Linked DNA regions of Homo sapiens. The protein of the gene in region 1 interacts with the protein of each later gene in a pairwise test. Each region holds a gene or a part of one and is shown in the gene's direction. Other genes may lie near its edges.

The links.
Region 2: the proteins of RAVER1 (region 1) and CNOT10 interact in binary tests that used the Homo sapiens proteins (3 or more experiments, as listed by UniProt).

The regions. Positions count from the first base shown.
Region 1 is NC_000019.10:10,323,518-10,327,333, reverse strand, and holds part of RAVER1 (ribonucleoprotein PTB-binding 1), read left to right. Parts: intron 1-3,767; coding exon 3,768-3,816. UniProt on the Homo sapiens protein: Cooperates with PTBP1 to modulate regulated alternative splicing events. Promotes exon skipping. Cooperates with PTBP1 to modulate switching between mutually exclusive exons during maturation of the TPM1 pre-mRNA.
Region 2 is NC_000003.12:32,758,139-32,761,954, forward strand, and holds part of CNOT10 (CCR4-NOT transcription complex subunit 10), read left to right. Parts: intron 1-1,319; coding exon 1,320-1,433; intron 1,434-3,816. UniProt on the Homo sapiens protein: Component of the CCR4-NOT complex which is one of the major cellular mRNA deadenylases and is linked to various cellular processes including bulk mRNA degradation, miRNA-mediated repression, translational repression during translational initiation and general transcription regulation.

The DNA.
Region 1 (3,816 bases):
CATGATCGCACCACAGCACCATGACACTACAGCCTGAGCAACAGAGCTAGACCCTTATCTCAAAAACAGAGAGACAGTCCTGGGCTCGGACCCCCAGCTCTGTGGGCTTGAGTGGGTCCCTCTCGTGTAAGTGGGGTATTGGTGCCCCATTTAAACTAGGTGTCTGTTGGGAGGCAGAGGCAGGAGGATCACTCGAGACCAGGAGTTCAAGACTAGCCTGGGCAAGATAGTGGGACACCATCTCTATATTTAAAACAAGAAACAGGCTGGGTGAGGTGGCTCATGCATGTAATCCCAGCACTTTGAGAGGCCGAGGCAGGTGGATCACTTGAGGTCAAGAGTTCAAGACCAGCCTGGCCAACATGGTGAAACCCTGTCTCTACTAAAAATACAAAAAAAATTAGCCAGGTGTGGTGGTGCAGGCCTGTAATCCCAGCTACTCAGGAGGCTGAGGCAGGAGAATCGCTTGTACCTGGGAGGTGGAGGTTGCAGTGAGCTGAGATCACGCCACTGTACTCCAGCCTGGGTGACAAAGCAACACTGCATCTCAAAAACAGAAAAAAAAAAAAAAAAAAAAACAGGCCAGGCGCAGTGGCTCACGCTTGTAATGCCAGCTCTTTGGAGGCCGAGACGGACGGATCACCTGAGGTCAGGAGTTTGAGACCAGCCTGACAAACATGGAGAAATCCCGTCTCTACTAAAAATACAACAAAAAAAAAAAGGTAGCCAGGCATGGCGCCACGCGCCTGTAATCTCAGCTACTCAGGAGGCTGAGACAGGAGAATTGCTTGAACCCAGAAGACTGCGGTTGCGGTTAGTGGAGATCGTGCCGCTGCACTCCAGCCTGGGCGACAGAGCGAGACTCCGTCTCAAAGAAACAAAAAAAACAAAAACTGAGTATCCATGAGCCACGGGAACCCCCTCTCTGTTTACTTATCATTCATCCATTCTGCTGCTTTCTCTTGGACACCTGCTACGTACCAGGCCTGCTATGTACCAGGCCGCCTGTGCGGGCTCAGGACAGAAGATGAGTTAGCACAATGGCCTCACCTTTCTTTTATTTTATTTTATATTTTTTTAAGACAGAGTCTTGCTCTGTCACCCAGTCTGGAGTGCAGGGGCGCGATCTTGGCTCACTGCATCCTCCGCCTCCTGGGTTCAAGTGATTCTCCAGCTTCAGCCTCCCGAGTAGCTGGGATGACAGCGCCTGACACCACACCCAGCTAATTTTTGTGTTTTTAATAGAGATGGGGTTTCGCCGTGTTGGCCAGGCTGGTCTTGAACTCCTGACTTCAGGTGATACACCTGCCTCGGCCTCCCCAAGTGCTGAGATTACAGGTGTGAGCCACTGCGCTGGCCTGGCCTTACCTTCTTATGTGGAGATCAAAGGTCACAGGGTCATGACCAGCTACAGGTACTCTCCTAGCCTGTTTCCACATCTCAAAATGGGGCTGGCAGTGCTTCATGATCAGGTTGTTGTGAACAGCTGCCCATTCATTCCTCCACTCGAACATTCACTAAACTTAATTTTTTTTTTTTTTGAGACAGGTTCTCAATCACCCAGGCTGGAGGAGTACACTCCGGCCTCGACCTCCTGGGTTCAAGAAATCCTCCTACCTTGGCCTCCCATGTAGCTGGGGAACTACAGGAATGCATCACCATGCCCAGCTGATTTTTAAAATTTTATGTAGAGGCCGGGCACAGTGGCTCATGCCTGTAATCCCAGCACTTTGGGAGGCTGCGGCGGGCAGATCACTTGAGGTCAGGAGTTCGAAACCAGCCTGGCCAACATGGTAAAACCCTGTCTCATGGCACGGTGGCTCACGCCTGTAATCCCAGCACTTTGGGAGGCCGAGGTGGGTGCATCACGAGGTCTGGAGATCGAGGCCATCCTGGCTAACATGGTGAAACCCTATCTCCATTAAAAATACAAAAAAAAAAATTAGCTGGGTGTGGTGGCATGTGCCTGTGGTCCCAGCTATTTGGGAGGCTGAGGCAGAAGAATCACCTGAACCTGGGAGACAGAGGTTGTGGTGAGCCAAGATCCCACTACTGCATTCCAGTCTGGGTGGCAGAGCGAGACTCCGTCTCAAAAAAAACAAAACAAAAAACAAAAACCCTGTCTCTATTAAAAATAGAAAAAAAATTAGCCAGGCGTGGTGGTAGGTGCCTTTAATCCCAGCTACTCGGGAAGCTGAGGCAGGAGAATTGATTGAACCAGGGAGGTGGAGGTTGCAGTGAGCCAAGATCATGCCACCGCACTCCAGCCTGGGCAACAGAGCGAGACTCCCTCAAAAAAAAAAAAAATTATGTGAAGATGGGGTCTCCCTATGTTGCCCAGGCTGGTCTGAAACTCCTGTGCTCAAACGATCCTCCTGCCTTTGCCTCCCAAAGAGCTGGGATTATAGATTCGAGCCACTGGGCCTGGTCTCACCAAACATTTGTTGAGCATCTGATGAGTAGCAGGCGTTGAAGTGATGTCCTCCGAGGAGCCCACCTTTAATGTTAGGTGACCCAGCTGAATGGAGGGTGGGCTTGACAGTGAAGCAGCTTGAGGTTCACACATCAGTCCCTCGACTTAGGAATTGTGTGGCCTTGATCACTCTGTGACCCCTCTGAGTCTCTCTCTGTTCATCCCTAAGATGGGTGTGTTTATGGCCGGGCACAGTGGCTCACGCCTGTAATCCAGCACTTTGGGAGGCCAAGGCAGGCGGATCGCTTGAGGTCAGGAGTTCAAGACCAGCCTTGCCGACATGGTGAAACCTCATTTCTACTAAAAATACAAAAATTAGCTGGGCGTGGTGGTGCACACCTGTAATCCCAGCTACCAGGAGGCTGAGGCAGGAGAATCACTTGAACCCAGGAGGTGGAGGTTACGGTAAGCTAAGTTCACATCACTGCACTCCGGGGTGACAGAGCAAGACTCTGTCTCAAAAAAAACAAAACAAAACAAAAGCCGACAGGTTTGGTTATGGGAGATCTGTGCCCAGACCTTGGCACAGGGCGTGGGCAGAGGTGAAGGGCTGCTACCTGCACCTTTGCTGCCCGGGCATTCAGCAAGTGCCGGTGCCCAGCCCAACCACTTCCCTTAGCACTGCTACCTGGCTTGGCCACTGTCTGGAACGAGAGCCCTTCCTTCCCCACCCGTTGCTGATTATCTCTTTTTTTTTTTTTTTTTTGAGATGGAGTTTTGCTCTTGTTGCCCAGGCTGGAGTGCAGTGGCGCGATCTCGGCCCACCGCAACCTCTGCCTCACAGGTTCAAGTGACTCTCTTGCCTCTGCCTCAGCCTCCCAAGTAGCTGGGAATACAGGCATGTGCCACCACGCCTGGCTAATTTTGTATTTTTAGTAGAGACGGGGTTTCTCCATGTTGGTCAGGCTGGTCTCGAACTCCCGACCTCAGGTTATCTGCCCGCCTCGGCCTCCCAAAGTGCTGGGATTACAGGTGTGAGCCACCGCATCCGCCCGTGGCCTTGGCTTTGTTGGTGAGGTGGCTCCCAGCTCCGCCCTCCCTCCAGCTGTGTGGCCTTGGGTGCGCTGACCTCTCCGTGCCTCAGTTGCCTTCTCTGAGAAATGGGTATGATGCAGCCTCCCAGGGTCATTGGGAAAATCAGATGAGCTGATGCAGGAATGAGGCACAGGGCAGTGGAGGCCTGGCGTGGAGTTCACCCTTATGGGGCAGCTGAGTCTGGTTACGGTTGTCACTTCCCGGGGTGGTGCAGTCACTGCTGCCCAGATGCTCATGACTGCCTGCCTTCCTCCGGCAGCTGGCGTGCGGCCAGGATGGGCAGCTGAAGGGCTTCGCGGTGCTGGAGT
Region 2 (3,816 bases), on another chromosome or scaffold:
AGACCTAACTAATCACACACTAAGCTAAAGATTATGTTTACTCACTTTGAGTCTCTGTTTCCACATCAGTTAAACAAGGAACCACACTAGACAGTCTTTCAGCCCTCCCATGGTAGTATAAGGCATAAACCTCAATTTCGTTATGCTTCTCAAGGACCACTCTACTTTTCTGTGTTGTTAAGAGTTGAGGGGCTGCCTTTCTAAGATTCTAGGAACCAAATTCTAGGGTAGTTTTCTAAGATTCTAGGAACCAAAAGTTAGCAAGTGAAGAGGAAACAGAATACTTTTGAATTTGCCCAGCTGTGCTTTTTATAGGAAGAGCCATTTCTAGTCAGAGGATTTCAGAACATTTCAAAACTCTGTGGTGATATACTGGTTACATTCTTCCTTAGACTAAAATTACAACCTGAATGCACTTAATGATACATATGTGTATTGTAATTTGTAAACATAACTCAAAACCCTGTATCTGAGTGAGGTCATTTGTGGTTAGCCATTCAGACTTCATTTCTATTTGACAAGGGTTTATTTTAAGATTGCTTTGTGGAGCAGTTGTTTAACATTCAAGTGATCTATTAGTATTAAGTCTTTAACCAGACTTGTTTTAAATGAGCTGTCTGTGAAGTAGAAAACCAAATATTATAGAAACTTAGATTTCCAATCCAACTTAGCGAAATCAATGTAACTTAAACGTTGTCTTCACATATGTTTGTTTAACCTGTTTTTTTTCCTTCAGTATTCCTTTAGAAGAATAGTAACTGTGTGAATAAAACTTTTTAGTTACTCTTGATACTATGGTTTAGCAAGAACTGTAGACTTAATTGGTTGAGAAAAGAACATTTAAAGTAAATGAATGCTTTAGTAAGTTAATTATTTCTTAGCATATCACAAATATATGTAGAAAGAATAAGATCTCATTCTATAGCTTTATTCCTAGGTTATTAAAAGCAAACTTCTATGGAAGTTAGTTCTCATTAGGCTATATATATATAGTGTGTGTGTGTGTGTGTGTGTGTATTTATCTATACATATATACATACATACATACATACAGGCTATGTATTGTAATCCATTGGTTATTTTGTTGGGGATGTGGGTCAATTGGATGAAAGCTAAAGATGACTTATGTAAATAGCCAAACTGTGTTTCAGAATTGTTTTATACATCAATCTAATTCTTACCATTAGTACCGTGGCTTCCTCTCCTCTTTCCTGGTGTCCAGATTGTCACAGCTAAAGGGCATTTCTTCCTATTTAGCAAATATAACCATTATCAATGTTTAAAATGAGATTTTCGGCCCCTTCCCTTTTGTGTTATAGGTGCTCCATACTTGCTTGCAGTGCCTACGTGGCTCTGGCTTTGGGTGATAACCTCATGGCTTTGAATCATGCAGATAAACTTCTTCAGCAGCCCAAGCTGTCAGGATCTCTTAAGTAAGTGTGACTTGCCCTGTGTGTCCCTGGTTTCTTTAGTTTTGAGGTTTCTCCTTGGTTTGTGGTTTATGTTGCTTCTTTTGACTCCTCCAGTGGAATATATATTTGTAAGGAAAGCAACTGTTTAAAAGAACGTTTTTTAACCCATGCCTCGGCAGTGAAAATGTTTTCACTTGTGCTGTACTGAGCGTTAGGAGACAAAAACTTCGGACTCTAGTGTCCACTTCTAGGCTTCACTGCAGCACTTTAATTCTCCAAATAAGTCAAGTCCTCAGAGAGAAGACCTACAAAAAAAGGAGTGTGGTCAATGTGATAAATCTACTTTGAGGGACCAGGCACGGTGGCTCACGCCTGTAATCCCAGCACTTTGGGAGGCCGAGGCAGGCAAATCACGAGGTCAGGAGTTCAAGACCAGCCTGGCCAACATGGTGAAACCCTGCCTCTACTAAAAATACAAAAAATTAGCTGGGCGTAGTGGCGGGCACCTGTAATCCCAGCTACTCAGGAGGCTGAGGCAGGAGAATCGCTTGAACCCAGGAGTCAGAGGTTGCAGTGAGATCTCTGCACCACTGCACTCCAGTCTAGGCTACAGAGCAAGACTCTGTCTCAAAAAAAAAAAAAATAGACAAGAATTTGAAAAATCTTTCCAAGCTACTGTATCATTCCAGAATCAGCTAGTTTTAGTCAAACTGCAAATACTTCTTCATTAATATCATTGTCATTCTAAAATTTTCCAAAGCACATTATCTTTTCTTTTACCAAAATTGAGTAAAATACAGGCCAGGTGTGGTGGCTCATGCCTGTAATCCCAGCACTTTGGGAGGCTGAGGTAGGCAGATCATTTGAGGTCGGGAGTCTGAGACCAGCCCAGCCAACGTGGTAAAACCCCATCTCTACTAAAAATACAAAAATTAGCCAGGCATGGTGGCAGGCATCCATAATTCCAGCTACTCGGGAAGTTGAAACAGGAGAATCACTTGAGCCTGGGGGGCGGACGTTGCGGTGAGCCACGGTTGCACCATTGCACTCCAGGCGGAGTGACACAGCAAGACTCCCTCTCAAAAAATAAAAATAAAATACAGCTTGAATTTTTGTATGGTGCTGATCCTGGAAATTTTATCAAAAGCCACGAGTATTCTGCACAACATTAGAACAGTTCTTTCATTCATCGTATAGGTGTATACTTACAAATGCCAAAATATAACTACTTACTCTTTGGCTTTTTAGTGATCCCCAAACATACCTAGTGTTTTTGTTTTTTTTTTAAGTAATTAAGGCCAGGCGCTGTGGCTCACACCTGTAATCCCAGCACTTTGGGAGGCCTACCTGGGCAAATCATTTGAGGTCAGGAGTTGGAGACCAGCCCTGCCAATATGGTGAAACCCCATCTCTACTGAAAATATGAAAATTAGCCGGGCATGGGGGCACACTCCTGTAATCCCAGCTACTCGGGAGGCTGAGGCACGAGAATTGCTTGAGCCTGGGAGGCAGAAGCTGCAGTGAGCCAAGATTGTACCACTGCATTCCAAACTGGGTGACAGAGTGAGACTCCATCTCAAAAAAAAGTAATAAATCATTCAACTATATAAGAGACTTTGTCACAATTCAAATATAAGGGAGCTCCTGCTCTTCTGCAAGAAAATCTTGTCCAATATTCAGGCCTGGAGATGGGGAAGATCCTAATTTTCAGTTCAAGGCATTTGGGTTGCCTCTAAAGTACCTTCCGTCCTTATCATTGCCCAACTCAAAATGCCAATGTTGGGAATTGCAGCTGATGCTGGTGTTCAGATTGTGGTGTATACGGCCATTATGAGAGAACTGGACTTTGTGTGTTTGTGTGTGACTGAGTCTGTCTGGGTCACCCACACTAGAGTGCAGTAGCACAATCTCAACTCACTGCAACCTCCACTGTCTGGGTTCAGGCGATTCTCCTGCCTCAGCCTCCCGAGTAGCTGGGATTACAGGAGCCCACCACCACACCCGGCTAATTTTTTTTCTTTTTCTGAGACAGTTTCACTCTGTTGCCCAGGCTGGAGTGCAGTGGCATGATCTCAGCTCACTGCAACCTCTGCCTCCCCAGTTCAAGGGATTCTCCTGCCTCAGCCTCCTGCGTAGCTGGGATTACAGGTGCACGCCACTATGCCCTACTAATTTCTTTTTTTTTTTTTTTTCTTTTTTTGAAACGGAGTTTCACAGGCATGAGCCACCGCACCTGGCTACTTTTTGTATTTGCTCTTATTGCCCAGGCTGGAGTGCAATGGCGTGATCTCGGCTCATCACAGCTTCCATCTCCCGGGTTCAAGCGATTCTCCTGCCTCAGCCTCCCAAGTAGCTGGGATTACAGGCATGCACCACCACGCCCGGCTAATTTTGTATTTTTAGT